2 separate regions of the Homo sapiens genome follow, and region 1 is linked to region 2. Evidence: fine-mapped expression QTL. A gene starts in region 2. The other region holds a variant in brackets. All regions are shown on one strand. Distances are between the middles of the regions.

What was found. PIP is the estimated chance that this variant, and not a neighbour inherited with it, causes the effect.
Region 1: its variant is the best candidate, but not a certain one, in a credible set for the expression of RYK in blood mononuclear cells (TOPMed, PIP 0.71).

Annotation. Positions count from the first base shown.
Region 1 is chr3:134,171,235-134,175,624 of GRCh38, reverse strand. RYK (receptor like tyrosine kinase) reads left to right here. Exons shown (of 15, transcript NM_002958.4): 13 at 1-16. Among named protein-coding and RNA genes, the nearest start is that of RYK, 77 kb to the left of the region's middle. The variant T/G (reference allele first, on the strand shown) is at 2,106.
Region 2 is chr3:134,248,928-134,253,317 of GRCh38, reverse strand. It overlaps RYK (receptor like tyrosine kinase), which reads left to right and starts at 2,459. Exons shown (of 15, transcript NM_002958.4): 1 at 2,459-2,895. The coding sequence starts at 2,664. RefSeq lists a silencer at 2,285-3,104 and an enhancer at 2,440-3,218.

The sequences.
Region 1 (4,390 bases), 78 kb after region 2:
TAGCGCTAGTGATGTGGTAAGTGCCGGGACCCCCAGATAGCAAAAGAATAGAGAAACAGCTTTCTGTTTTTAAATGTTCTACTATTTTTATCTTTTGGGTTTTTAAAAAATCTGCTAGCTGTTCCCGGAAATTTTTATCCAGAAAGCAAGTGTAATTAGCTGCCAGTCAACCAGTTTATGGAGAGGAGCTGTGACCCAGACCATAGGCCAGCACTGTTTGTAATCTCATTTCATCCTCACAGTACTGCTCTGACAGAAGCACTTTTTTTTTTTTTTTTTTTAAGACAGAGTTCCACTCTTGTAGCCCAGGCTGGAGTGCAATGGCGCAATCCTGGCTCACTGCAACCTCTGCCTACCAGGTTCAAGCGATTCTCAGGCCTCAGCCTCCCAGGTAGCTGGGATTACAGGCGTGTGCCACCATGGGCACATGCCCAGCTAATTTTGTATTTTTAGTAGAGACGGGGTTTCACCATGTTGGCCAGGCTGGTCTTGAACTCCTGACCTCAGTTGATCCACCTGCCTCCGCCTCCCAAAGTCCTGGGATTACAGGTGTGAGCCACCACGCCCATTGACAGAAGCACTATTAACACTAGGAGATAGGCTGTGGTATCCCAGTTTTAAAGGTGAGGATTTTGAGACTCAGAGCAGTTACAGTAATTTCATTATTATTTCTTTCTTATATAAGAGGCAGACCAAATAGTTGCTAGATCATAAAGATGTTTTCTTTTTTTCAGGTGACCTCTTCTAAGTGTTATGGCTCATAAAATTTGTAAATCCCCCCGTCATCCTCTTCCTTTTGTCAAGTTTCTGGGTGGTTTTGCCACTTAGCCAGATCATAGTTGGGCCCTTTGTGATGTACAGTTTCAGAAGCCACGTTCACTTGTTCATATTTTACAGCCATGTAAAATTTCTGTCACTTGATTTCTTAGTCTTATTTGGAAGACTAAGTGTAATTTATTTTCCTGTCTCTTGCCTGTTAGACTTTATTATTGTTGCAGAATATTTAGGGATTAGGTAAAACTTCTGCTTATAGGGTCCCACATATGTTCACTCAGTGATAATCTGTTTGTGTTATATGTAAAATCCTATAGAATAATTTGCTTCTAAGCTTCAACTGTAAGAATTGGGCTTACTGTATCATTGTATTTTGTGTGTCTATATTTTAAAATTTAGGGCTACTCTTTTGTTTCAAAGTGTGTATGTTTTAAGGATTAATCTTTTAATCATGTATTACTGTACGCTAATTAATTATATTAATTGGTATATACTCATTTCCTCGGTGTATGAGTTTTCTGTGGCTGCTGTAGCAAATTACTACAACCTTGGTGGCTTAAAACAATAGAAATATAGTCTCTCGTGGTTCACTTCTGAGGCCAAATGTCTGAAATCAAGGTGTAGTCAGGGCTGGGCTCCTTCCAGAGGCTCTAGTGGAGAAGCAGTCCTTGCCTCTTTCAGCTCTGGTGGCTGTTGGCATTCTTTGGCTTGCGGTTCCATCCCTCTGTTCCAAGTTCATACCACCTTCTTCTTCACATACGTCTTTCAAACTCTCTTTGCCTCCCTCTTAAAAGGATACATATGATTTAGAACCCACTTACATAATCCAGAATAAACTTTTCCTCTCAAGATCCTTAATCACGTTTTGTCATGTAAGGTAATTACAAGTTTCAGGGAGTAGGACATGGGCATATCTTTGGGGCTACCATTCAGTTCACTGCAGTCAATAATTGAAATGATCTAAGATTTCTTTACTGAAAAACTGATATTCTAATTTAAAATCCTTAAAATGAGAATAATTTGAGAAAGGGGAAAATTCCTTTAATTAACTCTAACTACTAAATAAATTTTTTTTCCTTTTTAGAAACTATGTGCTATTTGATATTGATATGGTTTGGCTATGTCCCCACCCAAAATCTCATCTTGAATTGGAATTCCCATAATCCCCACGTCAAGGGCGAGACCAAGGGTGGAGATAATTGGATCATGGGGGGCAGGTTCCCCCATGCTGTTCTAGTGAGTCTCACGAGATCTGATGCTTTTATCAGCGTCTGGCATTTCCCCTGCTCACACTCACTCCATCCTGCCACCCTGTGAGGAAGGTGCCTGCT[T/G]CTTCTTTTCCTTCGTCATGATTGTAAGTTTCCTGGGGCCTCTCCATCATTGCAGAAATAAGTCAATTCAACCTCTCTCCTTTATAAATTACTCAGTCTTGGGTATTTATTCATAGCAGTGTGAGAAGGGACTAATACAGATATATTGCTCCTTTTACATACCAAGTATTTTGATAAAATGTGTTCACTTAATGTGAATGAGCAATTTACTTATATAATTTTTAAATTTTTTTTTTTTTTGAGACAGAGTCTCGCTCTATCACCAGACTGGAGTGCAGTGGCGCGATTGCAGCTCAGTGCAACCTCCGCCTCCTGGGTTCATGCGATTCTCCTGCCTCAGCCTCCTGAGTAGCTGGGACTATAGGCGCGCACCACCATGCCTAGCTAATTTTGTTAAAATCAAGGTCTTTCATTTTATATATCTTCAAAATACTTTGTTTTAACTCAAGATAAACTATTCTCAAAGAAACAATTTATCTGACATTTGTGAGATGAACAAAGTAAATATGAATGATTATGAGAAGGGATGTGATCTGCTTCACAGAGCAGTCTCAGAAGCTAACACTGAATGACAACCTGTTTCATGTTGTCCACAGCCTCTCCTAGCCAGAGAGGCATCGGGCATGGTGGGTGATGGGTGGCAGGATGAGGGAAATAAAGCCAGACTCTTGGATACTGAATCCCAGGGTTCAGCTTATAGAGCAGTGGGGTACTAGTCCTGGTCTGTTTTTCCAGAGCTCTGATGATAAAGAAAAAATCTCTCTCTAGCATTAATGTCTAGAAGTTAAACATACCAAGTAAAGCAGTACAAATATGCAAAGCAGGTTATATTCTTTTTAAATCTCTACGTAATGAGAACCTGGGCTTTTTTTTAGGGAGAGAAAGGTTACATTTTTGGTTTTGATTTTTATATTTTTCAAATGACATACGAAGGGAAAGCAGAGTTTGATTTTAGACCAATGCACAGCTGCTGTACTGAATGACAGTAAGGACTAGTTCTACTCTTTGATAATGTTTTTGGTTTTAGAGTTGCCAAATCTTTATTCAGAAATTCTGAATTGTAGCTGGAACTGTTTACCAGCTCTACATTAAGCAAAGCTATTTTCATGGAGTGGGAAAGGGGACAGGAGGAATTGGTTTGGCTTTGGTTGTAGAACATAATTTTAAAACATAATATCAGTTGAATTAGAGCAGTGTGATCTCAAATTTACTCCTTTAGTAAAAGCTCACATCTAAACATTTTTAAATGTAGAAAAGTGAAGTAAACTTTTCTTAGTGTTTACTTTGAAAATTTTATTCCGTAGTTGATTTAAAAGATGGATTCACTCGTCTCTTTGGGATGTTAATTTTTTTATTTCCAGTGGTTGATTTAAAATTTTTATTTTGTTATTTATTGAAATATAGTTGCCTTTGCTGAAATGATATGGCTGTTGTGGTGAACCAAAACTAGTTCGATGGGCAGAAAATGGAAGATAATTCTTAGATGATAATCTATAAGTATTTCGTGTAATTTGAAGAGGTTGGAAATCTTTTTATTATTCTCTTAGAAAAAGGAGCATTGATAGCTTGTATTTCAAAGGGGTATGCAAGATGGCAAGTAGTGCTATTTGCTTGCACAGTGGAGGCCCCCAAAATATGTATTACTTTTTTTTTTTTTCCTTAGCTACTTCTGTTGCCCAGGTGGGAGTGCAGTGGTACAGTCATAGCTCAGTGTAGCCTTGTACTCCTGGGCTCAAGTGGTCCTCCTGCCTCAGCCTCCTGAGTAGCTAGGACTACCAGTGTGTGCCACCACACGTGGCTAATTCTTTTATTTTTTGTAGAGATGGAGGCTTGCTGTGTTGCCCAGGCTGATCTTGTACCCCTAAGCTCAAGCGATCCTCCTGCCTTGACCTCTCAAAGCACTGGGATTACAGGCGGGAGCCACTGCACCCAGCCTGTATTACTTAATTTAACGTATTTATTTCTGTGTAGGTATACCATTGTATAATTAAGCGATGATAGGAATTATTTTTTTGTAACATTTATGATTAAATATTTTGTAGGACCTACAGAGTGAAAATTAAGTTAGATAATATACTTTCAACAAATGAGGCTATAGCTAATAATAAATCTCCAAGCAAGATGCTCCAAGAGCGTTGAGTCTCTTCAGCTGGGTATTAGCTGGCAAAGTTCATGTTGAGGATACATGGTTTGGTTAGGCAGAACATTTCAAATTATATCAGAAATAGTTATTTTTATGGTTATGACATTTTGCAGGAGTTCACACATTTTATGTAAGAATCTGC
Region 2 (4,390 bases):
CATCAGAATTACCAGGAGGCTTGGGAAAACAGATTGTTGGGCCCCAGCCCTGGAGCTGCTACCTGTTAGTATGGGCAGTGTCCAAGGAATTTACATTACAAGTTCCCAGGTGATGATACTGCTGGTCTGGGGGCCACACTTTGAGAACTTGTCTTTGTAGAATTTATGAAAACATTTGTTTATCAAAGTTCTCAAGGAAGCACATTGCTCGCTCCTGTGTCCCCAGTGCCTAGCGTGATGCCTGGCACGAGTCTTCATCGAGCTCAGGCTCTGGGCCAGGCTCAGTGCTATTGAATGAGGTTCATGAGGGTCCCAGGTTTGAACTGTTTGGAGGTAACTGGTGATGAAACTTTCACAGGAAGTGGTCATTAAAGGGAAAGGATTCCTTGTAATTACAATAACAACAGGTGTGACACCTACCCAGCGTCTGCCTAGATGTTTTACTTGTATCCCTCTCCAATTAAATCCTGTAAAAGCCCTGGGAGTCGGGCATTATCCCGGGATTTTTATGAATGAGAGAACCAAGGCTTGGAGAGTTTAATTTTCCCAAGACCACAGGATTAACAAGTACCAGAACCCAGCCAGGCCTGAGTGGGAGCTCTCTGCTGTTTACATCATAGGCCGCCTGAAGAAGTCACTGACAAGACCTAGTAATTAAAGAACCTCGAGAAGCTAGGAGTTTCATTCTTTGAGGACTGTGAGCTTTTTTAAAAGTGCAAAGAATATGCCATCCTTTAAAAAAATGCTTCCCATCTGAATTGAGATTCCTGTTCACACAACATGTTTTGAGCCTCCAGCCCTTCCTGGCAGAACCCTGGTAGCAGTGGCTGTCCCAACAGAAGTATTTTTGCTGACTTTTGTGGCTTAAAAGCCTTCTCTGATGGAGCACTTTTCCTCCCCTCTTCCTCTTCTCAGCCTCCTCCGGCAGGATGAAGGGTGTAAGATTTTGTGCTGAGGCGCTGAAGCTTGACAAATTGAGGCCAGCCTATCTCTAAATGGAATCCGTGTATCTTGCTAGGGAGGGAGAAAATCAAGTTCCAGCACTTCCCTCCTTATCAGCCTCTCCTTTTCCCTACCCTTCCCTGAGGATAAAAATAACCGCTTCCCAGGGCCTCACTGCGATGGAGCAACTGTGCCCCGAAGCCAGGCCTAGCTGTCAGAGCAGCTGCTCCCCGAGGCACGGCCCCGCGAGAGCCTTGGGGTCAGGACGGGGGCCTGTCCGCAGGGACGAGGTGTCCCAGGACAGGGCAGGGGCCCTTGGAGCCTCACCAAGAGAGGGGGCACTGGTGCAAGTTTGACCGCGATGGTGGGCGGCTCACAAAAATACATCAGGAGGCCCGGAAGTCCATGCACTGGCTGGCTCCACCGCCTTTAAGTACACGAGGTCTATCTGCAGTTCTTAACCTCTTTGAGGGCACAAGGACTCCCTAGAACAAATGATGACATACCACCTCTCTGTGTGCAATCAAGCATACACACAACACACAGAAACATGGACGTGGACACAAATACGCACGGAGACACATACACTTTTGCACACAGTTTCATATTATTGGAAGGCTGTCGAAGCCTGGTATGGACCACAGATTAACAACCCCAAAGGCAGGTTGATTATAGTGATGCAGAACGATTATAAAAAAAATAACAATTTGGCAGGGCGCGGTGGCTTACACCTGTAATCCCAGCACTTTGGGAGGCCGAGGTCAGTTGATCACGTGAGGTCAGGAGTTCGAGACCAACCCGGCCAACATGGTGAAACCCCGTCTCTACTAAAAATACAAAAAAATTAGTCGGGCATGGTTGCGGGCGCCTGTAATCCCAGCTACTCGGGAGGCTGAGGCAGGAGAATGGCTTGAACCTAGGAGGCAGAGGTTGCAGTGAGCCGAGATCGTGCCAGTGCACTCCAGCTTGGGTGACGGAGCAAGACTTCGTCTCAAAATAAATAAATAAAAATATAAAAATAAATAAAATTTTGTAACGTAAAAATAGGGTTAGTAAAGCGTGCTAAGATCTTTCTGGAAAACAAATATATGTAGTATAAATTCTAATAATAGATACGGAAACGATAAAGTTGATCACCGATGGTAAGATAAAGGATGATTTCTATTTATTTGAGTTTTCCCACTAAACAGGAAAGCATGCTGCTTTTTCGCAACCAGAACGGCCGCATCCAGGCGTTTCCGGGGACCTGGGGCGCCCACTGAGCTGCAGGCGCGGCCGGTGGCTCCAGCCTGGCCCGTCCGTCGGGAAAGGAGGGTTACAGACAATAGACAAGCAAACATTAGACGCAGTGACCGCGTGGGGCGGGGACCGGCTCTTGCGGAGAGGGTGACCCGAGCCCTTCGCCCGCCGAGGCACTTTAAAACCCCAGCGCGTTGCCCAGGCCGGCCCGCCCAGAGCGAAAGGTGCGTGCGCGCTCCCGGGGAGGCGGCGGCGCGCACGGGCGCGTCCCGCGGGCAGCCCCCAACTCCGGACGATGCAGCGAGGAGGCGGCGGCGGCGGCGCGCTCCGGAGGTCTGAAGCCACTGCTGGCTGCCACGGGCCGGCGGTGCGATGAGCTGGGCAGCCGCCCCCGGCTCGGGGCTGTGAGCGGCTCGGGGCCGGGGGTGGGCGGCGGTGCGGCGGGCGGCCGACGCTCCTCTTCGGCGGCGGCGGCGGCGGCCATGCGTGGGGCGGCGCGGCTGGGGCGGCCGGGCCGGAGTTGCCTCCCGGGGGCCCGCGGCCTGAGGGCCCCGCCGCCGCCGCCGCTGCTGCTTCTGCTTGCGCTGTTGCCGCTGCTGCCCGCGCCTGGCGCTGCCGCCGCCCCCGCCCCGCGGCCCCCGGAGCTGCAGTCGGCTTCCGCGGGGCCCAGCGTGAGTCTCTACCTGAGCGAGGACGAGGTGCGCCGGCTGATCGGTGAGTGGGGCCGCCGAGGCCGGGGCGGGCAGGTCGGGCCGGCTGGGGCAGCTTCCGGCCGCCGGCGGATCAGTCTGCGAGCCGTGGACCTCGGGCGAGTACCCTCCCCGCCCCCCGCGCCCGGATTCGCCTCGCGGCCCGGTCTCTGCCTGCCGTGCTGGCTGGGAGGTGTGGTCCCTGCCCGGTCCCCAGCTCTGGGTCAGCCTTCGTGCCGCCCTCGCTGCCCCGCCGCGATAGACCCAGATTCACCCCATCCCATCCTCCTCACTGCCTCCTTAGCCCTTCTCCCTAGAAGAGTCAGTCACCCTTACAACTTTTTTTCCTTGCTGCACGAAGTTTTTTTGACGCTTTCTATGTGTGTCACTCTAGGGCCCTCGATTTTGAATATCTCGAAATTCACGTTTTAGACTGAACTTGCAAACCCTTTGCTGTGGTTTTGATGCTCCAGTAGAGGCCACGCTCTGTGCTTACCCTTTTACAAAAAAAAAAAAAAAAAAAAAAAAAACGAGAGAGAAAGAAGGGGAGGTTATAAGGGCACCAAATGTTCGTGGCAGCCTCCAACTCTTGGGACGTAGATTTGGAGCATATGCTTAGATTCTAAGCATATTTTTAGTGAATGAATCGCCAGGTAGCAGACCTTTTTAGTTTCAATACCTTTTTGGTTTTTGCATTGGGTGTGTTGGGAGTTTGGACTGACTCTGTACTTCTGGGCCACTCTCCTACTTTTGAGTATCTTGAAGGGAAACAAGAACTTAGTCTTGGGTCGGTTTGTGGTTCCATTTACTTGCTTAGCTTTGTTGTTTGGGGAATTAATTTGAAAAATTGCTGGGGTCTTATGTTAGGACTTTGTGGATTCTGGAAATGACCCCTTAGAGGAAGATCTGACAGGAACGACCCCCCAAAAAGGAAGTCCTTGGTACCTAGACGTTTGCATTCTTTTGTTATTATGGCAGTATCTTTATTTCATCTGAAGGTGGTGCTTCTGAGTGTTTGAGGGGAAAAATTATTCTCTATTGCATCCATTATTTGTCAGTATTCTATTTTTTTTTAAGTAATAAGACTTTGTTGAGGTGTGTTGAGATTGACTCAGTGTAGAAATGGAATTACTGAAAGCAGACTCTTTAGACATTACATGTACGGATTTGCAGTTTTTAGCCAAAGAAGAATGCTCTTTTTATGAAGTCGTGCTCATTCTTAATCCTTCTTAGTCTAGCTGAGTTAGCTGAATGTAGTTTAGCTGAATTAAAACTCTACTTGGGGTAGTACTTGGAACACAAGACTAAGATTTAGGAAAAATAATACAAGACGACTCATATCACATTAATTTTAGAAATATTAACGTATTATGCATGGTTTTGTAAAGGCTTTTTGGTTAAAAGCACTTATATAGCTTGTGACTTTGTTTACATGGGTAAACAAAGTCAGAGGTGTAGGTAGGAGACAGAAGACAACCAGGGACTGACATTGAATTCCTGCCATATACCTGCCCCTACAT